7 linked regions of the Homo sapiens genome follow. Changing the gene in region 1 together with any one later gene gives a genetic interaction. Each region holds a gene or a part of one and is shown in the gene's direction. Other genes may lie near its edges. The genes, in order: EP300, RAB2A, SLC30A5, TRAPPC13, NPRL3, IGF2BP1 and SEC24B.

Region 1 (3,500 bases):
TCTTGCTCTGTTGCCCAAGCTGGAGTACAGTGGCGTGATCTCGGCCTATGACAACCTCCGTCTCCCGGCTTCAAGCGATTCTCCTGCTCAGCCTCCGGAGTAGCTAGGACTACAGCTGCGCAGCACCATGCCCGGCTAATTTTTGTATTTTTAGTAGAGACAGGGAGTCCTGACCTCGTGATCCACCCACCTCGGCCTCCCAAAATGTTGGGATTACAGGCATGAGCCACCGCGCCCGGCCTGTTTTTGTTTTTCGTGGATATACAGTAGTCCCCCCTTATCCTTGCGGGATACATTCCAAGATCTCCAGTGGATACCTGAAACCCTGTATAGTAGTGAATATAATTGTCATCAGTCAGAACACGTTTCTGTCCGTGTCTTCCACACACAAATTTAATGCCTTTTCCATCTTAACTAATCACTTGTCATGCACTGTGGCTGTGATGTTTGCAGTTTGAGGTACAACAGCAAAACTATCACGAATTTTTTTCCTTCACAATTTCATGTATAGATTTGATCTTTGTAACCTCCGCATACAATTTTTTTTCATTCCTTATTAAGTCAAGAACTTTCACCTTCAAGCAATTTACAGCTTCTCTTTGGCATATCCATATAGCTGTCATTGCTACTTTTGGACTTAGGGACTGTCATTAAGTAAAATAAGGGTTACTTAAAACTCAAGCATTGCCCTGCCCCATAGTCAGTCTGACAATCTGATAACTGAGATGGCTACTAAGTGACAAATGGCTGGTAGTTTATACAGGTGAATACATTAGACGGAGGGGAGATTCACTACCCGGTCAGGTGAGATTTCATCAGGCTACTCAGAATGGCGCACAGTTTAAAACATTGTTGTGGCTCACGCCTGTAATCCTGGCACTTTGGGAGATTGAGGCAGGAGGATTGCTTGAGGCCAGGCATTCAAGACCAGCCTGGGCAATGTAGTGGGACCCCCCATCCCCCCACCATCTCTAGAAAAAAAATTTAAAAAGTCAGCAAGGCATGGTGGCATGCATCTGTAGTCCTAGCTTCTTGGGAGGCTTAAGGTGTGAGGATCTCTTGAGCCCAGGAGTTTTGAGGTTACAGTGAGCTATGATGACACCACTGTACACTCCAGCCTAGGTGACATAGCAAGACTCTGTTTCTAAAACAACAAAAATTAGTGTTTATTTCTGCAGTTTTCTTTGTAATATTTTTGTACCACAGGTGTTTGAAATGGCAGAAAATGAAACGGGGTAAGGATGAACTCCTGTATAGATAGACTGGATAAAGAGAAAGCCAAGTGCATGATGTTCATAGAGGAGTCTTAAGAGTAAGCCTTATGTCATCTATCCAAATGTTGTTTTCTAGGAGTATAAGAATATAGGAACAGAGCTTAAAATGGAAAAATACTGTACAGTTAGCCTTCCGTATCTGAGGGTTCCGTGTTTGTGGAGTCAGCCACAGATTGAAAATATTTAGGGGAAAAAAATCCATGGTTGCATCTGTACTGGACATGTACAGACTTTATTTTCTTGTCATTATTCCCTAAACAATACAGTGCACCAACTATTTATGTTGCATTTACACTGCATTAGGTATTGTAAATAATCCAGAAAGAATTCAAAGTATATGGGTGGGTGTGTGTAGGTTATATGCAAATACTACATGTCCCCTTTATATCAGGGACTGGAGCATCCTCAGATTTTGGTATCTGCAGTGGAGGGAGTGGATTCTGGAACCAATTCCCAGCAGATACCAAGGGACAACCATATATATATAGTATCATGACATCTTGTATCATGTCACGTATATATATATCATATATATTATCATGTCACGTATACAAGACATCTTATATATCCTATCATGTAAGATGTCTTGTATACGTAAGTAATAGAAATGAAAATCAGCAGATAGTTAAGGCATAATGAGAAAATGGAAAACATTGTTCTTGTTAGAAATGTTTAAGAATGGCTTCTTGATAAAGAACTGTGTTAAGCATATTCTTTCTTCTTTTTAGACACAGAGTCTCACTCTGTTTCCTAGACAGGAGTGCAGTGGTGCAATCCTGGCTCACTGTAGCCTCCATCTCCTGGGTTCAAGCTATTCTCCTGCCTCAACCTCCCAAGTAGCTGGGATTACAGGCACCTGCTACCATGCCTGGCTAATGTTTGTATTTTTAGTAGAGATAGGGTTTCACCGTGTTGGCCAGGCTGGTCTCGAACTCCTGACCTCAGTCTGCCCACCTCGGCCTCCCAAAGTGCTGGTATTAGAGGCGAGAGCCACAGTGCCTGGCCAATTAAGCATAATTTTTTCTATTTTTCATTTTCTTACATGGATCTTTTTTTTTTTTTTTGAGACGGAGTCTAGCTCTGTCACCCAGGCTAGAGTGCAGTGACACGATCTCGGCTCACTGCCAGCTCCGCCTCCTGGGTTCATGCCATTCTCCTGCCTCAGCCTCCCTAGTGGCTGGGACTACAGGCACCCGCCACCATGCCCGGCTAATTTTTTGTATTTTTAGTAGAGATGGGGTTTCACCATGTTAGGCAGGATGGTCTCGATCTGCTGACTTCATAATCTACCCTTCTCGGCCTCCCAAAGTGCTGGGATTACAGGGGTAAGCCACCGTGCCCAGCCACCTGGGTCTTAAAGAATAAATTTTCTTGAGATGGAGTCTTGCTGTGTTGCCCAGGCTGAAGTTATCCTCCTGCTTCGGCCTCCTGAGTAGCTGGGATTGCAGATGTGAGCCACTATGCCTGCCTCTAAGAAACTTTCTTATAAAGGAGGAAGAAGAAAAGTAGCAGTGCAGTGCTCCAAAGAATTTTTTTACAACACTTAAGGAAGAACTACCTTTAACTTGTAGCACTAGAGACTCTGTTTCAAAGAATGCACAAGAATACTTACCCTTATTACTTGTAATATACTCTCATATTTTCTGTTGCTTTTTTTTCTTTTCTTTTTTTTTTTTTTTTTAGTACTGGTTGCAGCCTACTATATTGATTTTTATGACCCACTGTTGGCTTTTGAGCCATAATTTGAAGAATACTGGCGTAGAAGAGTTGACAAGATGGCAGTTATTCTGTATTAGGCCAACATTTTCTGTATGCCAGGAACTTATCCTCTGTACATTGTTCCTTCTTTCCTTCCTGGAGTTTATAGATAAGGGAAGAAGACTGGCATTCACGGAGTCTGGTGTGATCAGCATTGTATTTGGGAAGTACGTATATAGTGGGAGGAACAGGAGAACCTAACCCAGTAGTTATCCTGGTGGCTGTCTTTGAGGAATTGTGTCTGATTTTGGGATCTCACAGATAGAGATAGGATTAGTAAAAATGAGCCCAGGCTAGAAAGGAGACTGTGTGAGGCCAGGTATATCCTGTTCTGGGAACCTGTGAGTGCTGTCTGACTGGTAGAATAGCCAAAAACTTGACTGTAGAGGTGAGCAAGGGGGCCAATCATGGAGGGCTTATAATACAGGAATTTAGACTTTCCATTTTACCCATTTAATGGATGGGGCA
Region 2 (3,500 bases), on another chromosome or scaffold:
AAGTAACCATTCTACTGTAGCCAAACATCACAGAAAAAATTGTGGCTCTGCTTCCACAATCCCCAGGCAGTAATGAAGTAGCACCCTACCACCACCATTTCCCTTGTTGGAGTGGAGTGAGAGGAAGCCAACTAAACAGTGGTTTAAATAAGACCCAGAGTCTCATAACATAGTATCTAAAATACCCATGTTTCAATAGAAAATCATTCATCATACCTAGAACCAGGAAGATCTTAAATTGAATGAAAAAAAGATAATAGGTGCCAACAGTGAAATGACAGTGGTGTTTGAATTATCTTACAAAGATTTTAATGCAGCAATCATTAAAATGCCTCAACAAACAAGGAACATGCTTGAAACAGAAGAGTCTTAGCAAACAAACAATCTGAGCAAAAGAAATGCAAGATAAAAAAAAGAACCAAATAGGAATTTTAAAATAAAAAAAAATACAATAATTGAAATTTTAAAACTCTTTCAAAGCTCTTTGTACACTAGAAAAAAAAACTTAGTGAATGGACTCAACAGCAGAATGGAGATAAAGGAAAGAAATAGTGAACTGGATGATAGAACAATAGTAACTACTTAGTCTAAACTGCAGAGAGAAAATTGAGGAAACAAATGAACACTACCTCAGGGACTTATAGGACTGTAACAAAAGCTGACGTTATATGATGCATCATAAGTCCTAGAAGGAGAGGAAAAAGGAATGGCTCTGAAAAATACTCAAAGAAATAATGGCTGAAAACTTCTTAAATGTGGCAAAAAGTATATAAACCTACAGATTGAAGACAGCCCCAAAGAGGTTAAACCCAGACAAATCCACATGATGACGAACCTCTGTATGGTCAAATTTCTGAACGTGAAAGACAGAAAAAAAAATCTTGAAAGCAGCAAAAAATAGCACCCTACGTATAGGGGAAAAACAGTTCTAATGATAGCAGATTTCTCATCAGAAACCATGGAGGACAGAGAAAATAGCACAGTGATTTTTGTTTGTTTGTTTGTTTTTATTATACTTTAAGTTCTAGGTTACATGTGCACAACGAGCAGGTTTGTTACCTAGGTATATATGTGCCATGTTGGTTTGCTGCACCCACCAAGTAATCATTTACATTGGGTATTTCTCCTAATGCTATCCCTCCCCCAGCCCTTCAACCCCCAACAGGCCCCGGTGTGTGATGTTCCCTGCCCTGTGTCCAAGTGTTCTCATTGTTCAGTTCCCACCTATGAGTGAGAACATGCGGTGTTTGGTTTTCTGTCCTTGTGATAGTTTGCTGAGAATTATGGTTTCCAGCTTCATCCATGTCTCTGCAAAGGACATGAACTCAACTTTTTTATGGCTGCATAGTATTCCATGGTGTATATGTGCCACATTTTCTTAATCCAGTCTACCATTGATGGACATTTGGGTTGGTTCCAAGTCTTTGCTATTGTGAATACTGCCACAATAAACATACGTAGCACAGTGTTTTGCAAGAGCAGAAAGAAAAGAACTATCAGCCCAGAATTCTTTACCCAGCAAAGAAAAAAAAGAATTAGCAATGAAGGTGCAATCAAGACATTCTTAGAGAAGGAAAAACCAAGAATTTATTAGTAGCAGATTTGCATAAAAGAATGGCTAAAGGAAGTTTTCTAATAGAAGTGAAATGATTGAAGAAAGAATCTTAGAACACCATAAAGGAAGAAAAAAACATAAGAAACAAAAATATGGATAAATATGATAGACTTTTTTCTTCAAGTCTTGCAAATTATGTTTGATGTTTGAAGTATAAACAAGTAACCACTGTCTGATGTGATTATCAGTGTATTCCACAATATTATAAGCCATGGGGAATAAAGGGATTTGATTAGCCCACAGGAAGGCAGGAGAAGGAAAATAGAAAACAAAGTAAAATGTCAGATGTAAGCCCTCATATATCAATAACTAAATGTTGGTGGTCAAAATACACAAATCAAAAGGGATTAGCAGAGAGAATTTTAAAAACAATGACTTAGCTATATGGTATTTATAAGAAACTCACTCCAAATACAACAGTACAGTTAGGTTGAAAATAAAATGATAGGAAAAGTTATACAAATATTAATCAAAGGAAAACAGGAGTAGCTATATTAATATCACATAAACTTAAGGGCAGAAAAAAATTATCAGAGTGGGACATTATATAATGATAAAAGAATCAGCCCTCCAGAAAGATGTGACAGTGCTAAACATGCGTGTACCAGATATGTGAAGCAAAAACTGATAGACTGCGAGGAGAAATAGAGAAATTCACAATTACGGTTGGAGACTTCAGCATCCCTTAGGTGCTCACAGAATATATACCAAGATAGACCGTGTCCTGGGCCATAAAATAAACCTCAATAGATTTTAAAGTATTGAAATCATACGGAATGTATTCTCCAAACAAAATGGAATTAAACTAGAAATCAGTTTAACAGAAAATAGGAAAATCTACAAATACTTGGAAACTAAACAGTACGCTTCTGTGTGTCAGTGAGCAAGTCTTGAATTACAAAAAACACATTGAACTGAATGAAAATACAACATACCAATTTGTGGAAAATAGCTAAAACAGTGTTACGAGAGGGAAATGTATATCATTAAATGCACACAATAGAAAAGAAGAAGTCTCTTCCTTATACGTTATACAAAAATTAACTCAAGATGGATTAGAGATTTAAACATAAGACCTAAAACCATAAAAACCCTGGAAGAAAACCTAGACAATACCATTCAGGACATAGGCATGGGCAAAGACTTCATGACTAAAACACCAAAAGCAATGGTAACAAAAGCCAAAATTGACAAATGGGATCTAATTAAACTGAAGAACTTCTGCACACCAAAAGAAACTATCATCAGAGTGAACAGGCAACCTACAGAATGGGAGAAAAATTTTGCAATCTATCCATCTGACAAAAGGGCTAATATCCAGAATCTACAAAGAACTTAAACAAATTTACAAGAAAAAAACAACCCCATCAAAAAGTGGGCGAAGGATATGAACAGACACTTTTCAAAAGAAGACATTTATGCGGCCAACAAACATATGAAAACTCATTATTACTGGTCATTAGAGAAATGCAAATCAAAACCACAATGAGATACCATCTCATGCCAGTTAGAATGGCAATCATTAAAAAGTGAGGAAACGGCCGGGCGCGGTGGCTCATGCCTGTAATCCCAGCACTTTGGGAGGCTGAGGTGGGCGGATCACAAGGTCAGGAGATGAGACCATCCTGGCTAACAGGGTGAAACCCCATCTGTATTAAAAATATAAAAAATTAGCCAGGCGTGGTGGCAGGCGCCTGTAGTCCCAGCTACTTGGGAGGCTGAGGCAGGAGAATGGCATGAACCCAGGAGGCGGAGCTTGCAGTGAGCCAAGATCACACCATTGCACTCCAGCCTCGGCGACAGAGTGAGACTCTGTCTCAAAAAAAATAAAAGTGAGGAAACAACAGATGGTGGAGAGGATGTAGAGAAATAGGAACACTTTTAC
Region 3 (3,500 bases), on another chromosome or scaffold:
AAATACAAAAAAAATTAGCCGGGCGTAGTGGCAGGCACCTGTAGTCCCAGCTACTCGGGAGGCTGAAGCAGGAGAATGGTGTGAACCCAGGAGGCGGAGCTTTCAGTGAGCCAAGATCGTGCCACTGCACTCCAGCCTGGGTGACAGAGCAAGACTCTGTCTCAAAAAAAAAAAAAAAAGAGAGTAAAGAAGGACTTTGATGAATATATAACATTTTAACAAATGTATATATTCGTTAAAATGTTATATATTCATATATAACGTATATATATTCATATATAACGTGTATATATATGTGTATATATATATATGTATATATATATGAAGGACCTTCCAGGCATTAATATGATATTTAAAATATTGCTAATTTTCTATTATTAATTACTTAGTAGTATGAAAATTTGGACTTGTTTCCTCATTTATAAAGTTTATACTTTAAAAATATTTGTCCTTTTCCTTTTCTGAAAAATGTTCTATGTTTTTAGGTACGGCCGAATAGAAATTCTGTCTGGATTTATTAATGGACTTTTTCTAATAGTAATAGCGTTTTTTGTGTTTATGGAGTCAGTGGCTAGATTGATTGATCCTCCAGAATTAGACACTCACATGTTAACAGTAAGTCTTTTTATTTTCCTATTTGGATTTCTAGTCATACTTACATAGTTTTTTCTATCCTAAAGTTTAATTGTTTGCAGTTATTGCTCTAAGAAGGTTTTATTTTTTACTTATATCAACATAACTTCCTATCTTGCTGTTTACATTTATACTGCTCCCTCTTAGAAATTCTCTTTTTTTTTTTTTTTTTTTTTGAGACAGAGTCTCTGTTTTCCAGGCTGGAGTGCAGTGGCATGATCTCAGCTCACTGCAGCCTCCACCTCTCAGGCTCAAGCGATTCTCGTGCCTCAGCCTCCTGAGTAGCTGGGATTACAGGCATGTGCCACCACCCCCTGCTAAATTTTGTATATTTTGTATAGATAGAGTTTCGCCATGTTGGCCAGGCTGGTCTCGAACTACTGACCTCAAGCAATCCTCCCACCTTGGCATCCCAAAGTGCTGGGATTACAGGCATGAGCCACTGTGCCCGGCCAGCTATAGCAACTTTTAATGTTCTCCCTGTACCACCAAAGCTTTACATGTGCTGTTTCTTGTAGTTGGCATGTCCTTTCCTTACTTCTGCCCTTCAGCCTCCATCAAGATTTTGCTTATGTGAAATACTTTTTTTCTTTTCTTTTTTTCTTTTTTTTCAAGCAATTCTCCTGTCTCAGCTTCCCGAGTAGCTGGGACTACAGGCGCCTGCCACCACGCCTGCCTAATTTTTGGAAATACTTTCTTTTAATCCCCCTCTTCTCTCCACAAAGTTTGTTAGATTCCTTTTCTCAGTATTCTCATTATGTTTTGTGCATTCTTCTTTTAGCAACATTGAGTTGCAGTTGTTTAATTTGTCATTCTTCCACAATTAAGATATGTAAGTATCTTCAGGACCTGAATTACATATTATTAACTCTTAAGTTCAGTTCTAGCACCTGGCTTGTCGTAGGAAATCAGTTGTTAAATGACAAAAAGCAGCTCTGGCTCTTGCTGGTGGAAGCATACATGAGTAAAATGTTTCTATAATACAGTTTGGAAAAATAGACTTTTTTGGATTTTTTAGTGCCTGTATCCTTTGATATTGACTATTTATCATACATAAACATTCACACAAACATATAGAAGTACATGACTCTGGCCGGGTGCAGTGGCTCACGCCTGTAATCCCAGCACTTTGGGAGGCCGAGGTGGTTGGATCACCTGAGGTCAGGAGTTTGAGACCAGTCTGGTCAACATAGTGAAACCCCATCTCTACTAAAAATACAAAAATTAGCCGGGCATGATGGCGCACACCTGTAATCCCAGCTAGTTGGGAGGCTGAGGCAGGAGAATCACTTCAACCACGAGGCAGAGGCTTCAGTGAGCCCAGGTTGCACCAACTGTACTCCAGCCTGGGTGATAGAGAGACTCTGCCTCAAAAAAAAAAAAAAAAAAAAGTAGTACATGATTCATTGTACCCTTATTTATAATAGTGAAAAAATGGAAACAATTCACTGTCCACCAGTGAAAAAAGTAATTAAATAAATTTGTTATCTATATAATAGAATATTACAGAGCTATTGAAAAGAATGAGATATATCTGTATATACTGGCCTGAAAATATTTACGAGATGTACTAGTGAAAAACAAATTGCAGGCCATGCATGGTGGCGGGCGCCTGTAATCCCAGCTGCTTGGGTGGCTGAGGTAGGAGAATTGCTTGAACCTGGGAGGCAGAGGTTGCAATAAGCCGAGATCATGCCACTGCACTCCAGCCTGGTTGACAGAGCAAAACTCTGTCTCAAAATGAAAAAAAAAAAATTGTAAAATAGTATTATGATTACATTGTTGGTTTTAAAGGGTGTTATGTGTATGTATGTTAGTACACAGATGGAAAATACACCATTTTAAGCGTGACTAACCCTTGGTGGTAGAATTATAGGGGACTTTCATCTTCTACATTTTTATTTTCCTGATAAAATACACAATGATGAAGTATTTTTCAGTAGGGGAGAAGGAGTACTTATGAGATGATGGAGTCTCTGTAAGCAGTACTTGGTTTCATTCAAAGTCATTAACCATCTACCAGCTTATAAAGCCTAATGAAATTTTAAAATCTGGAGTCAAATGGTCCGAATCAGGAAGAAGTAAATAACCTCCCTACACATTTAATAAAGTAAATCTCTTACTACTTTTGAAAAGTAATTAAAAGTATTTGTCCTTCTCATATTTATATTTTCCTTTTATAAAACAAATGGATTGCTTTAAATTGTAGATGTAGGCAAATTAACACCCTGAGCTACTACTATTCAAGATCATTTTGTAAGAGCAGATAATCAAGGATAAGTAACTTTGTTTATCCTTTGGAGTATTATTGTGGCACCATTAAATTAAAGTAATTTCATTCACTTTGTTAAGAAAAAAATGAGAGGCCAGGCATAGTGGCTCATGCCTGTAATCCCATAATCCCAACACTTTTGGAGGCCAAGGTGAGAAGATCGCTTGAGCCCAGGAGTTTGAGGACAGCCTGGGCAACATAGACCCTGTCTCTACCAAAGAAAAAAATTTGTTTTTAATTTAAATAAATGCGAGATTACTATTGTATGTTTCCTTTTTATTATACTTGTTTTACTTTGGAAAATTTTACTGTGTTTAAGACATAATAAGACCATATTTGGAATCTGCTCATTAATAAATTATAATTGTTGGCATATAAACTGTTCAAATTTACCTAGCAATATAAAGATTTCAGGTACAGTGTATACTTGCCCTAGTAAGCAGTACTTTCAAACTCTTCAATAAACAAAACAAAACTTTGCATCATTTATTTATACATAAACCATAAACCAAGTACATACCATTCTTAATTGAAATAAGTCCAAATTCCTCTACTTACCAATTCTGCTTGATATTTGAAAGTTAAAATGTTTCTT
Region 4 (3,500 bases), on another chromosome or scaffold:
TTATTTTTTTCTGCTGTTGTTAGGATGTGAAAAAGTCTGTTTTATGGCTCTTACAGCTTTGGGCCTGATTAGCAAGCCTAACTTGCAGATATTGGAAGGCTCCATTCTTGAGCCTATGCACCATATGCTGGAATTTATTATCAGTGACTTAATTTGGGGCAACTTGAGGACTTCTGTGCTCTAAGAGAAAAAAATAGGAGTCTAGACTTCTTGTTCTCTTCCAAACTGGAATTCAAAAGCCATGGTATTGGGGTCTCCATACTGTTTAATTGCCTGGATTATGAGGAGAAGACAGTGTCACAAAACTGGTTCTTAGCCTGGTTAAACCATATTAGCAAAGTTAAACCATATTAATGGTTTTAGTTTTTACTACAGAGAATGACGTGAAATCATCAAATATTCTATCTATATATTTGTTTGGTGGAATCCATATAATTTTTTTTTTTTTTTTGAGACGGAGTCTTGCCCTGTCACCCAGGCTGGAGTGCAATGGGAGTACGATGGCGCGATCTCAGTTCACTGCAAACCTCAACCTCCCGGGTTCAAGCGATTCTCCTCCCTCAGCCTCCTGAGTAGCTGGGATTACAGGCACACGCCACCACAGCCGGCTATTTTTTGTATCTTTAGTAGAGCCGGAGTTTCACCATGTTGGCCAGGCTGGTCTCAAGCTCCTGACCTCGTGATCTGCCCGCCTTGGCCCCCATAAAGTTCTGGGATTACAGGCATGAGCCACCGCACCTGGCAAATCTACATAATTTTAAGTATAAAATGATTAATTTTCTTCCAGACAGATTAGAATTTTTTTTTTTTTTAATGAGATGAAGTCTTGCTCTATCGCCCAGGCTGAGTGGCATGATCTTGGCTCACTGCAACCTCTGGCTCCCAGGTTCAAGCTATTCTCCTGCCTCAGCTTCCCTAGTAGCTGGGACTACAGGCATGCGCCACCACACCCAGCTAATTTTTTTTTGTATTTTGAGTAGAGATGGGTTTTCACCATGTTGGATTAGAATTTACAGTGATTTCATTGTCCTCAATTTAGTTGCCTCAAATTTTTAAATATTACATTTTTTGTTAATTCATATGAAAACAATATTTTAAGAATCATTCATTTACTCTTTGTTTCTGCTAAAGTTTTAAGACTATTATTACTTAATATATTAATATCGATACTTCCAAGTCCTTTATATCTATTGAGTTAAACATGTTGACTACTAGCGTTTTTAGGCAGGAAGTGATTTTATAGGGCATCTAGTTCAGATCCCTTATTTTGGTAAGAGAAAGAATTTTCAGGTTTGTAGATTACATTCACATTTACCAATAGCACTTTGGTAAAATACCACATTGGGATTGGTTTTTGTTTTTTGTTTTTCCTTTTCTCCCTGCCTGTTGGTAGGCAGGGTATCCCTACCATATCTTATTCTTTGCAATACTTCTACTTTAGGTCCTGTTTCCCTCTGATTTGGCAAGAGAGACAATCTTGCAATAATAAATTAACATTCTAGCTCTGAGGAGTTCAACTAAGAAATTTTCTCATCACTAAGAGTAACTGGATTACTGCAGAATGACTACAGAAGTAATATTACATTATCGACCATGTGAGAGTGATCCCACACAACTGCCAAAAATTGCAGAAAAAGCAATTCAAGACTTTCCTACTCGTCCGCTATCAAGATTTATACCTTGGTTTCCATATGATGGGTCCAAGCTTCCACTCAGACCTAAAAGATCACCACCTGTGATTTCTGAAGAGGCAGCTGAAGATGTGAAACAGTACTTAACCATTTCAGAACATGATGCTAAGTCACACAGTTATGATTGCACAGTAGATCTATTGGAGTTTCAACCTAGCTTGAAAAAGCAGCATTTAACCTGGTCACACACACTGAAGGAACAGACTAATTCTGGAAATCTGGGTAAACAATCAGAAAAGGGAAAACAGCACAAGAGGAGATCTTGGAGTATTTCCCTTCCCAGCAATAATTGTACTAAAAACGTTTCTCCTTTGTCTAAAAAATTGCAAGATAGTTTAAAGGCACTAAATTTACACTCACTTTATAGAGCAAGATGGACAATAGAACACACTATTTGTAACAGCCAAACTCTGGAAGACATTTGGACAAAACTCAATCAAATTATTAGGCACAATGAACTTCCATCTTGTAATGCTACAATTCAGAGGCATTTAGGCCAAATATGGGTGTTCTGTGATATTATGTATTGTGAATATGTGGGAAGTCTTCTTAAAGGAAGATTAGCTCTTACTGGAAAAATTAATTTATTTGTGCATAAATATGGTGTTATTTTTAGTATGTAATGAATTCCACTGATTGTCAAAAAGAATATTCTGAATGAAATGAATATGGATTGAAATAGATAAAATAATTTTTACAGGTTTTAAAATTTTTAATGACTTTTTAGAATTCCTAGGCTTGTCAATTAAGTCAAGAAATTGCTGAGTTCTGCTTATTGGCAGCCTTCTTTTAAATGTGATAAATTATTGTTTACACTGAATTTGAAGGTAAAAATGTTCTGTTCCTTTTGTTACAAACTGTGATTGAATTAGTCATGAATTAAGTTGTATAGTTTGGATTTTGGTTAATCTCTAAAATCTAATTTTACTGTATTTTTTTCCTTACCTCAAGTGTAATTTTTTAAAAAATAAAACTCGAAACAATTCTCTTTGGAGTGCTATTTATGTGGCATGAATGTAGTTCAAAGTGGGAGACTAGTCTAGATTTATAATGATGTTTCCAAAGATATGTAATAACAATTGATAGGCTGTTTTCAAACAACGATACAAAATGTATACTTTGCCTAAAACGATAATGTATCCTGTTTTGAAGGAAAGTATCAAATGTTGAATGATTGTTTATTTCTTCTAATACAGATAATTCAGTATTAATGATAGTTAGTGCTAATTATTACTTGGCTGATGATTGGAGTCATTGTAGGTTCCCCATAAGCATAATCTTGTAATTGGTTTTACACATCACCTCATAAAAATGCTCAAAGGGATTAAAACAGTAAAAGTTTTGTAGAAGCATGTATGTTTGTTTAACATATTTAAATGCCTACTTTGCACTAGGTGCTAGGATATACTAGGGAAGGAGACAGACATGGACCTTGCCCTCACACAGCTTACATGTCATTACTACTATTAAACACACCAGCTCCCTAAGAAAAATAAGACTGCACTTAACTAGGAATATAGACATGTTTACCTTGAAGCTCAGTGCCTGTCATGGTAGGAGCTTGATAATGCATGGTAAACATTCCCTTCAGAGGGATTCTTCATAGCCTGAGATGGCTGAGGTTGCTTAAAATGGAAGCCCACTAATTTTTTTTTCTTTCTAACTTTTATTTTAGGTTCAAGGGGTACATGTGCAGATTTGTGATATGGGTAAATTGTGTGCCACAGGGGTTTGGTGTACAAATAGTTTTGTCACCCATGTAATCAGGATAATACCCAATAGGTAGTTTTTTAGTCCTCACCCCCTGCC
Region 5 (3,500 bases), on another chromosome or scaffold:
CAGCCAGATGCTGGGTGGCCCCGGTGTGTGGTGGGAGCCTGTGCAGGTGTGATCCAGATGTTCCCCTGGCCCCTCTCCCTTCCCAGGAGGGTGAGCGGGCCTTGCAGAGCTGGCTGGCAGCTGGGGGCTCCCTTTCTGAGAAGAGGGCCTTTCTGCCTGTGCGTCAGCACAGGGAGCGTGCTGTGGCCATGTCTAGGGCCATGGCTCCCTGATCACCCAGGAGGAAGTTGGAGTGGGGAGGGGGACCAGCCTCACCTGCTGCCACCCGCAGACCCAGCTCATCCAGATGGTGGTGTGGATGCTGCAGCGCCGGCTTCTCATCCAGCTGCACACCTATGTCTGCCTGATGGCCTCACCCAGCGAGGAGGAGCCCCGTCCGCGAGAGGACGACGTCCCCTTCACTGCCCGGGTCGGCGGTCGCAGCCTCAGCACGCCCAACGCCCTCAGCTTTGGCTCCCCAAGTAGGACCCCCAGGGCACCGCTGTGGTAGTCAGGGGAGACGCTTGGGGGTGGCATCCAGGAGGCTCAACGTGGGTGGTGCTGTGAGTGATGAGGGGCCTCCACACAGCTGCACACGCACATGCACGTGCCTCGTGTCCCCCGTGGAGACACCTCTCCTGTCTCCTAGCACCACCGTGACTCTGAGGTGGCAGCTCTGTCTCCGGGCTCTTCAGCAGGCTTGCTAGAATTAGGGGCAGCTCCCAGCCCAGCAAATCAGTGCTGGAATCTCTGCCCCAGCCTGGGAGCAGAGCAGGATCTCATACCACTACCAGGACAGCTGACACCTCTGCGCCCCAGAAGAGCCGTCATGGCCAGTGTGGCTTGAGGGCAGCAGCCTGTTGCCAGGTCCCAGGTCCCCGGTCCCCAGGCTTGGGGAAGGAAGGGGGTGGAAGACTTTGAAAGTCCCCCCTTGGCTGAGGTCTGGCTGTAGGCTTCATGCTTCATGTGAGGACCCCACCTGCCCAGGGTGCTTTGTCCTCCATCCTGGGTGAGGGACAGGATGCCCAGGCCCACCTTGGGGTGTTTGTGGGGCACACATCGCACCTCTGTTCAGGTCCCTTGAGGTTGCCCCCAGAGGGGAGGCTACCCGTTTCCCAAGTCAGCCGTATGAGGGGCGTGTCACACCCAGGAGGTGGGGCAGCAGCGAATGCTTGCAGGCAGATGTACCCTAACCCTTGTAGGAGTTAGGGGTGTCATTGGAGGCTGGCTGCTGGCTCTGCCCTCGCTGTTCCCCTGGGTGTCCTGGAATTCCACTTGGTCACCCTGACCCATGTCCCCCACAGCCAGCAGCGATGACATGACCCTCACCAGCCCCAGCATGGACAACTCCAGCGCAGAGCTACTTCCCAGCGGGGACTCGCCACTGAACCAGAGGATGACGGAGAACCTGCTGGCCAGCCTGTCGGAGCATGAACGCGCAGCCATCCTCAGTGTACCCGCAGCCCAGAACCCTGAGGACCTCCGCATGTTTGCCAGGTGGGTGTAGGTTGACCCGTTGGGACTGGGGCCAGTTGCAGGGTCAGGGCAGAAAGTGGATAGGGACGTACGCAACAGAACCACCAAATCCACTGAGAACAGATGGGGCCCTGTTCGAGATGGAGTCTCTGCATTCAGGTGTGTAGGGGCAGGTGCCACTGCCCAGGCCTGAGGGTTCGGCTTGTCACCAAGACGCCGGGCCATGGGCCTGGCATGCCTATTTTTCGGACTCTTCTCTCTCCAGTACTTCTTAGATGTTCCTTTTCCCTTGAGAGGCAGTGCCAAGTTCTTTTTTTTTTTTTTTTTTTTTGAGACGGAGTCTCGCTCTGTCACCCAGGCCGGACTGCGGACTGCAGTGGCGCAATCTCGGCTCACTGCAAGCTCCGCTTCCCGGGTTCACGCCATTCTCCTGCCTCAGCCTCCTGAGTAGCTGGGACTACAGGCGCCCGCCACCACGCCCGGCTAATTTAAGTGCCAAGTTCTCACCCTCATGGGACTTGGCAGGGGTTTGCCCAGGACTGTAAGCCCTGCGGGCATCCAGGGTCCCCCATGTTAAAGGTGATGTGGCTCAGTGGTCTCTGTCAGCCCCACCCTGACTTGGGGGACAGTGCAGGGGCATAGTTTCCCGGGAGTGGTCGGGTTGTCAGGGACTGAGTTTCCGGTTGAGAACCACACTCGGCCCTCGAGAGAACCACTTGCAACTCTTCTGAGCAGCTGGTCCAGGTCTCACCTGCATCCTAGCCTCCTCTGTGCCAGCCTGAGTTGCAGAAAGCACCCTAAAGCAGTGACCTTCCAAATGATGGTGACATTAAAAAAAAAAAAAAAAAAAGTCAGGCGCGGTGGCTCATGCCTGTAATCCCAGCACTTTGGGAGGCTGAGGTGGGTGGATCACGAGGTCAGGAGATCGAGATCATCCTGGCTAACATGGTGAAACCCCGTCTCTACTAAAAAATACAAAAAATTAGCTGGGTGTGGTGGCGGGCGCCTGTAGTCCCAGCTACTGGGGAGGCTGAGGCAGGAGAATGGCCTGAAGGCGGGAGGCGGAGCTTGGCGGGAGGAGGAGAATGGCGGGAAGGCGGGAGTTGCAGTGAGCCCAGATCGCGCCACTGCACCTCCAGCCTGGGCAGCAGAGCGAGACTCCGTCTCAAAAAAAAAAAAGCAGGCTGGGCACAGTGGCTCACGGTTATAATCTCAGCACTTTGGGAGGCTGAGGTGGGTGGATCACCTGAGTTCAGGAGTTCGAGACCAGCCTGGCCAACATATAATGAAACCCTGTCTCTACTAAAAAAGAGAGAAATTAGCCAGGTGTGGTAGCGCACTCCTGTAGTCCCAGCTTACCTGGGAAGCTGACGCAGGAGAATCGCTTGAATCTGGGAGGCGGGAGGTTGCAGTGAGCTGAGATCGAGCCACTGCAATCTAGCCTGGGTGACTGAGTGAGACTCCGTCTCTCAAAAAAAGGAAAAAAAAAAGCAGTGACCATTTGGCTCCAGAGCTACGTGGGACTCACTGTAGCACGAAAAAGAAGCCACCAGCAGAACCCTGGTCCCAACATCAGGACGCAGGCTTGGGCACCTCTGGGTTTGAACAGCCGTCTGCCGTCCTGAACCCACTCCGCCCACCTGGTGGTCAGCGGGACCGTGGTGGGCATGGGGTCCAGGAGGCCTGCCCACCCTTGTTGGGGGGCTGTGGTGGCTGCCTCCCTGGCCTTCACCACCAGCTCTGTTCAGGCCTGTGGGCAGCTCAGAGCTGATTCCCAGCAGTGGCTCTTCAGCAGAGGCCTCTGGGGGCTGGTGTCAGGTTGGGCTCACACCCACCCATCCCTTCCAGGCTCCTTCACTACTTCCGCGGCCGCCACCACCTGGAGGAGATTATGTACAACGAGAACACGCGGCGCTCCCAGCTGCTCATGCTGTTTGACAAGTTCCGCAGCGTGCTGGTGGTGACCACCCACGAGGACCCTGTCATTGCCGTCTTCCAGGCTCTGCTCCCCTGAGCCCAGGCGGAGGGCGGAAGGCTGCTGGGGT
Region 6 (3,500 bases), on another chromosome or scaffold:
TTTTTTTTTTTGAGACAGAGTTTTGCTCTGTTGCCCAGGCTGGAGTGCAGTGGTGCGATCTCAGCTCACTGCAACCTCTGCCTCCCGGGTTCAAGCAATTCTCCTGCCTCAGCCTCCCGAGTAGCTGGGATTACAGGCGCGTGCCACCATGCCCAGCTAATTTTTGTATTTTTAGTAGAGACAGGGTTTCACCATGTTGATCAGGCTGGTTACGAACTCCTGACCTCGTGATCCGGCCGCCTCAGCCTCCCAAAGTGCTGGGATTAAAGGCGTGAGCTACCACACCCGGCCTTTTCTCTAATCTTTATATCTGATCAGTGTACTCAGTGGCAAAGAACAGGTCATATTATGTCCTTATCATAGTAAATCTTGTTATTTACTTTGAGTTTGGGGCACTGTGTCTTCTCTTTATATTTGTTTCAAGGGGGACATACGGAATTCAAGCGGAAATGCAGCTTTGGAGCTGTGGGCTGGTAATTCCCACCCCTGCATTTGTGTCATAGGCTGTGTTCTTGTCCCCAACCACTGCTTGCTTATTTATTTATTTTTATTTTATTTTTTGAGGCAGAGTCTCACTGCGTCACCCAGGCTGGAGTGTAGTGGTGTGATCTCAGCTCACTGCAGCCTCCTCCCAGGTTCAAGCAATTCTTGTGCCTCAGCCTCCTTAGTAGCTGGGATTACAGGTGTGCACCACCACACCCAGCTAAATTTTTTGTATTTTTAGTAGAGGCGGGGTTTCACCATGCTGGCCAGGCTGGTCTCAAACTCCTGGCCTCAAGTAACCCACCCGCCTCGGCCTCCAAAAGTGCTGGAATTACAGGCGTGAGCTCCCGTGCCTGGCCACCAACCACCTGTGGATTGAGACACTGCTGGTCTGAGACAGAATCCACAGTAACAGACGGGTCATATTTCTCCAGTCCTTTCATTGCCCTTCCCAAAGTTGTACTTGATTGTCCTTGTTTCAAGAAGAGCAGGTTCTATGCCTTTGACTGAGGAGGGGTAGTGGGGTGGGGAGCCTGAAGTACTGGTATCACTGGGGACAACTAACCAGCCTTGTCCTTGTGGCCCCCAGGATAGACGTGCATAGGAAGGAGAACGCAGGTGCAGCTGAAAAAGCCATCAGTGTGCACTCCACCCCTGAGGGCTGCTCCTCCGCTTGTAAGATGATCTTGGAGATTATGCATAAAGAGGCTAAGGACACCAAAACGTAAGTCTCCAGCTTTTCTTGGATCTTCAGGGTCTGCTAGTCCAGTTGAGCCTCCCCAACTCAACTTTCAAGCTTTTATACAGACATATAAGAAATACAGTCAGCAATTGCACAAAAAGATGTAAACTGAGAAATAAAATCTTTCTTCTTACAGGACTTTGTCACCTAGGCTGGAGTACAGTGGCATGATCTCAGCTCACTGCAACCTCTGCCTCTGGATCTCAAGGGATCCTCCCGCCTCAGCCTTCTGAGTAGCTAGGACAACATGCATGCACCACCACGCCTGCCTAGTTTTTTGTGATTTTTGTAGAGATGGGGTGTCGCCATGTTACCCAGGCTGGTCTTGAACTCCTGGACTCAAGTGACCCACCCAGCTCAGCCTCCCAAAGAGCTGGGATTACAGGCGTGTGCCACCACACCCCATCCCTTCTTATTCCTGTCGTATGACCTCCTAGAAATTCTGTGCACTCACAGGTGTGTGTATATTGTGTCTGCGTGCCTGCATGTACGGATATGTGTGCCTGTGTGTATTCACTTGTGCGTGTATGCACATGTGTTTTAGCTCAGAGAGAATCACACTGAACAGGCTGTTCTATACTTTTTTCATTTTCTGTATCAGCACATATATTAGTACATATGGACAGACCGCATTATTTTTATAGCTGCATAGAATTCCACAGTATAGCTATTCATAGTTCATGTAATCAATCTCCTATTTCTTGATGGGTGTTTAAATTGTTTTAAACTTTTCCTTATCAGAAAACAGTGATGCAAGGAATCTGCTTACACATGTTCCTTTACACACTTGTGCTGTTTAAAATAGCTTTATTGGCTGGGCACGGTGGCTCATGCCTCTAATCCCAGCACTTTGGAGGCTAGGAGTTCTAGACCAGCCTGGGCAACATAGTGAAACCTCACCTCTACAGAAAATAGAAAAATCAGCTGGACGTGGCGGCCTGTGCGTATAGTCCCAGCTACTCGGAAGGCTGAGAAGGGAGGATCGCATGAGCCCAGGAGGTCAAGGCTGTGGTGAGCCTTGATAGTGCCACTGCATTCCAGCCTGGGTGATAGAGTGAGACCCTGTCTCAAAAAATAAAACAAATTGGCTTTATTGATGTTCAATTGATGTATAATAAATCATACATATTTTTAAAGTATGCAGTTTGATAAGTTTTGAGATGTTTTACTTGGAAATGCCAAGTCTGGGGTGGCATGGTGATTGAGTCTTCATGAAGCCCACAATTGAAGGAACTCTTGTCTTCCACTTCTTCCTTTGTCTTCCCAAGGGCTGACGAGGTTCCCCTGAAGATCCTGGCCCATAATAACTTTGTAGGGCGTCTCATTGGCAAGGAAGGACGGAACCTGAAGAAGGTAGAGCAAGATACCGAGACAAAAATCACCATCTCCTCGTAAGGCTCTCTTCTATTTCCCTGTTTATGAGTGGGGGATGCATGGGGGCCAGGGTCAGTATTTCATCATGGAACCTTGATATGTGCTCTTTTAAAATGGGTGCTCCTTCTGCCTCTTGAAGAAAAACAGTCGAAGTGGTAAAGAGCATTTAAAAAATCCCTGTAAGGACTGGATCTGCCCATTCCCACTGCCATATGGGGCAGGGGTGTTGTAAGGTGCTGCCTCTACAGTCCACGTCCAACCACTTCACAGCCCTCTTTCCCTGTGGCTCGTGGACAGCCTGCAGCTAGGAGCCAGGGATTCAGGGCTTTAGGCTTGTCTGTCACTGTGAGAAGTGACCTTGGCCCTTTTCTGTCTGTGGTGGGCTGCTCCTGCAAGCAGTGTGCTTCGTTTCATCAGAGACTAACCTGTGGGCAAAGTAATTGCTCTTGTCCAAAAAGGTATAGGACATGGATTATGTAGAATCAATGGGGAAACTTGGAGGCACAACCATAATCTGAGATTGGATCCATTGCTAACAGAGGAGTTTGAGTTAGGTGTTGGCATCTCCCTCCATCTTACCCCCTGCCCTGGTTACAAACTGGGAACACCAAAGACTGGGGTTGCAGAGTTATTTGCCAGAAGTTGAATAGGCTGCAGAAATGGTGGGCCTGTGACTCAGCTGGCCTCTCGTCTTTGTTACTGCCGGGGCCTGGTCCTGGCCTGCCAGTGAAAGGACACAACTCTGCTCTTTCTGCCAGGTTGCAAGACCTTACCCTTTACAACCCTGAGAGGACCATCACTGTGAAGGGGGCCATCGAGAATTGTTGCAGGGCCGAGCAGGAAATAATGAAGAAAGTTCGGGAGGCCTATGAGAATGATGTGGCTGCCATGAGCGTGAGTG
Region 7 (3,291 bases), on another chromosome or scaffold:
AGGATATAATCATATATAATTGCTAAGGGAATTTGGAATTTAATGGTATCCCCCTTCATTTGAACATTTCCTCTAGAAGAAACATAAAGCCGCCACACAATACTGGTGACATGCTAATCGTTGTTTATGTTTTATTGACTTACCAAGAAAAATATAGTCAGTTAAAATGTCAGTGACATACTTGTCATTGCACATATTTTATTGACTTATCCAGAAAAATATAAACAGATTTTTCAACAGTTTAAATTTTATTTGTGTAGTTGCTGCTGTTGAGGCTAAGAAATAGAGTGCTGGCAGTTGGGGGTGATGGTAGGAATCATGATTTTGTTCTATTACTGCTGAAGTCTATGAGAAAGGAAAGTTTCCTAATTGTATTTCTTTTACCAGACACATCTTCCAGAGCTAGATACACTTTCATCAGAAAGAGCCAGATCCTTCATAACTTGGCTTAGAGACAGCAGACCATTAAGTCCAATCCTTCACATAGTAAAGTAAGTACTTTTGTAACTTAATTATGAAGTTGTCTTTCCTATGTAGTCTGTGGAATTGCTTGTCTTCAAAGCAAACTTTAAATAGTAGCAAAATATATTCTGATGGTAAAATGTTGTTACTTGATTTAAATCCCCTGTATTCCATTTTCTGACATCTCCATATATTAGTAATTTTTAATTTTCTTTCTTTCTTTATTTAATTTGAGATAGAGTCTCACTCTGTCACTCAGGCTGCAGTGCAGGGGTGCTGCTATCACAGTTCACTGCAGCCTGGACCTCCCATGCTCAAGTAATCCTCCCAACTCAGACTCCCGAGTAGCTGGGACTGCAGGCACTTCCCTCCACACCTGGCTAATTTTTAATTTTTTTTTTTTCTTTTTTTGAGACAAAGTTTCGCTCTTGTCACCCGGGCTGGAGTGCGATGGTGCGATCTCAGCCCACTGCAACCTCTGCGTCCTGGATTCAAGCGATTCGCCTGCCTCAGCCTCCCAAGTAGCTGGGATTACAGGCGCCCACCACCACGCCCAGCTAATTTTTGTATTTTTAGTAGAGACAGGGTTTCACCATGTTGGCCAGGCTGGTCTTGAACTCCTCACCTCAGGTGATCCACCCACCTCGGCCTCTCAAAGTGCTGGGATTACAGGCGTGAGCCACCACGCCCGGCCAATTTTAAAAATTTTTTTTTTTTTTTTAAGCAATGGGGATCTTTCTATCTTGCCCAGGCTGGTCTTAAACTTCTGGGCTCAAGCAGTCCTCCCACCTTAGCCTCTTAAAGTGCTGAGATTACAGGTGTGAGCTGCCAGCCCAGTAATTTTTAAAATATATACTATTTTTAGAAATATGCACTTTTATTTTATTTGTATAAATTTACAGGATACAAGTGTAATTTTATGAGCTAGATTGCAAAGTGGTGAAATCAGGGCTTTTAAATACGTTTAGACAAATGCCCTTTTCTTTCTTCCAGAGATGAGAGTCCTGCCAAAGCAGAATTTTTTCAGCATTTGATTGAAGACCGGACAGAGGCTGCATTTTCTTACTATGAATTTTTGCTTCATGTTCAGCAGCAGATTTGTAAGTGAAGTAGAATAAAATTGAATAAGAAAAAGATCTATAACCTAGGTAAAGCATAATCTGTCAGAGAAGCGCGTGAGAAATTTGAAATGAAGGCATTTGTTAATACAAGATGCAACGCACAGCACTCTGTCTGAGGCTTTGGTAAAAAGTAAAGGGGAAGAAAGAACTTGACAGATCTTTTTCAACTCAAATTAATGGTAACGATGATGCTGTTTCACCAAGTATATTTTGAATTGGTTTCTACACATTTCCAGTAGTATGGCAGTACAGTGCTCTGTTCATTGCAAGCTGGCAAATTTATGTAGCTATGTGGAATGATATGTCATAATGTAAAATTAGATAAATTCTTTTTTCTTATAATTAATATAACATTTCTGGACTTGAACTCTGGCAAGAGATGCCAAAAGGCATTGGTACCGTGTTATTTGTTTATATGAATTACTTTTTAACAAGGAATGTTTCTTATTCATTAAATGAATTCAACATTTTCTCTGTAAAAACAATAGAGTTTCAGTACATGAACTATAGAAAAAAATCTATATATAATGTACATAAATGTTACATTTGTAAAGAAAATGTAAAAATGTAACTATAGCATATGAATTGCTTAAACTGTGCTGCATTGTTGGATGACAACTCTTTTTGTCACAGTTAGAGAATGAGGTTGACTAATGCATATTATGAATTGAGTCCACAAAGGAACACAAAACTCTTTGTAATTCTGTTAAATCTTTTATGTAGATTTATTTATGATCAGCCTACTAATTAAAACTATTTCGCTTGACAGTATGGTTTGGTGATTTTTTGGGGTTTTTGTTTGATTGGTTTTTTGTGGGGATTGGTGGGTTTTTTTACATACAGGATGTATTGAATTTACTAATTGGGGAAGTGCAGTGATACTGCATTTCAGTTAGTAATATATATGAATCAGGCCAGGCGCGGTGGCTCACGCCTGTAATCCCAGCGCTTTGGGAGGCCAAGGTGGGCAGATGACTTGAGGTCAGGTGTTCATGACCTGCCTGACCAACATGATGAAACCCCATCTCTGCTAAAAATACCAAAATTAGCCAGGGGTGCTGGCGGGCACCTGTAATCCCAGCTACTCAGGAGGCTGAAGCAGTAGAATCGCTTGAACCTGGAGGCTGAGGTTGCAGTGAGCTAAGATCACGCCACTGCACTCCAGCCTGGGCAACAGAGTGAGACTCCATCTTAAAAAAAAAAAAAAAGTAATATATATGAATCAATACACTTTCATTAGTCTGTGGACATTACCAAGTACTTATTCTGTTTGTATTCTAAAACAAATGGTGCTACTTTCAAAAATATTCTTAACTAGTAAGTATAATCTTAAATTGTCTTTCTTATTTACATTAGATATTTTTGCCTGCACACTTATAGCAAGAAAATTTTAGTAACACATATCACTATCCCATTTATTTAATTGACTTTAAGATTGCCATCTTGAATTTTGAAAGTGATTTTCTTCTGATCAAGAAACCTCTCATTCACTAACAACTTATTTACTATAAAAAACTCTTAAGGATCCATTAGATTATGGGACATAATTTTATTCTGTACACTATGAAAGTCCCCATCAACAAACTTTGGAAGGAAAAAGACTCTGCCAGGCATGATGGCTCATGCCTATAATCCTAGCACTTTGAGGGACCAAAGCAAGCGGATGGCTTGAGCCCAGAGGTTCGAGACCAGCCTGGGCAACATGGGG

What was found.
Region 2: changes in EP300 (region 1) and RAB2A together harm fitness less than expected from each alone (positive genetic interaction), as found in Homo sapiens cells (one large-scale study listed by BioGRID).
Region 3: changes in EP300 (region 1) and SLC30A5 together harm fitness less than expected from each alone (positive genetic interaction), as found in Homo sapiens cells (one large-scale study listed by BioGRID).
Region 4: changes in EP300 (region 1) and TRAPPC13 together harm fitness more than expected from each alone (negative genetic interaction), as found in Homo sapiens cells (one large-scale study listed by BioGRID).
Region 5: changes in EP300 (region 1) and NPRL3 together harm fitness more than expected from each alone (negative genetic interaction), as found in Homo sapiens cells (one large-scale study listed by BioGRID).
Region 6: changes in EP300 (region 1) and IGF2BP1 together harm fitness less than expected from each alone (positive genetic interaction), as found in Homo sapiens cells (one large-scale study listed by BioGRID).
Region 7: changes in EP300 (region 1) and SEC24B together harm fitness less than expected from each alone (positive genetic interaction), as found in Homo sapiens cells (one large-scale study listed by BioGRID).

Annotation. Positions count from the first base shown.
Region 1 is NC_000022.11:41,099,092-41,102,591, forward strand, and holds part of EP300 (histone acetyltransferase p300), read left to right. Parts: intron 1-3,500. UniProt on the Homo sapiens protein: Functions as a histone acetyltransferase and regulates transcription via chromatin remodeling. Acetylates all four core histones in nucleosomes. Histone acetylation gives an epigenetic tag for transcriptional activation.
Region 2 is NC_000008.11:60,593,487-60,596,986, forward strand, and holds part of RAB2A (ras-related protein Rab-2A), read left to right. Parts: intron 1-3,500.
Region 3 is NC_000005.10:69,118,014-69,121,513, forward strand, and holds part of SLC30A5 (proton-coupled zinc antiporter SLC30A5), read left to right. Parts: intron 1-485; coding exon 486-615; intron 616-3,500. UniProt on the Homo sapiens protein: Together with SLC30A6 forms a functional proton-coupled zinc ion antiporter mediating zinc entry into the lumen of organelles along the secretory pathway.
Region 4 is NC_000005.10:65,628,027-65,631,526, forward strand, and holds part of TRAPPC13 (trafficking protein particle complex subunit 13), read left to right. Parts: intron 1-1,441; exon of another isoform or gene 1,442-1,561; coding exon of another isoform or gene 1,562-2,314; exon of another isoform or gene 2,315-2,902; intron 2,903-3,500. Other genes in the region: SHLD3 (shieldin complex subunit 3), read left to right, coding at 1,562-2,314.
Region 5 is NC_000016.10:86,674-90,173, reverse strand, and holds part of NPRL3 (GATOR1 complex protein NPRL3), read left to right. Parts: intron 1-271; coding exon 272-461; intron 462-1,283; coding exon 1,284-1,476; intron 1,477-3,303; coding exon 3,304-3,469; 3' UTR 3,470-3,500. UniProt on the Homo sapiens protein: As a component of the GATOR1 complex functions as an inhibitor of the amino acid-sensing branch of the mTORC1 pathway.
Region 6 is NC_000017.11:49,038,885-49,042,384, forward strand, and holds part of IGF2BP1 (insulin-like growth factor 2 mRNA-binding protein 1), read left to right. Parts: intron 1-1,072; coding exon 1,073-1,207; intron 1,208-2,493; coding exon 2,494-2,616; intron 2,617-3,357; coding exon 3,358-3,493; intron 3,494-3,500. UniProt on the Homo sapiens protein: RNA-binding factor that recruits target transcripts to cytoplasmic protein-RNA complexes (mRNPs). This transcript 'caging' into mRNPs allows mRNA transport and transient storage.
Region 7 is NC_000004.12:109,538,106-109,541,396, forward strand, and holds the end of SEC24B (protein transport protein Sec24B), read left to right. Parts: intron 1-387; coding exon 388-491; intron 492-1,455; coding exon 1,456-1,570; 3' UTR 1,571-2,791; downstream 2,792-3,291. UniProt on the Homo sapiens protein: Component of the coat protein complex II (COPII) which promotes the formation of transport vesicles from the endoplasmic reticulum (ER).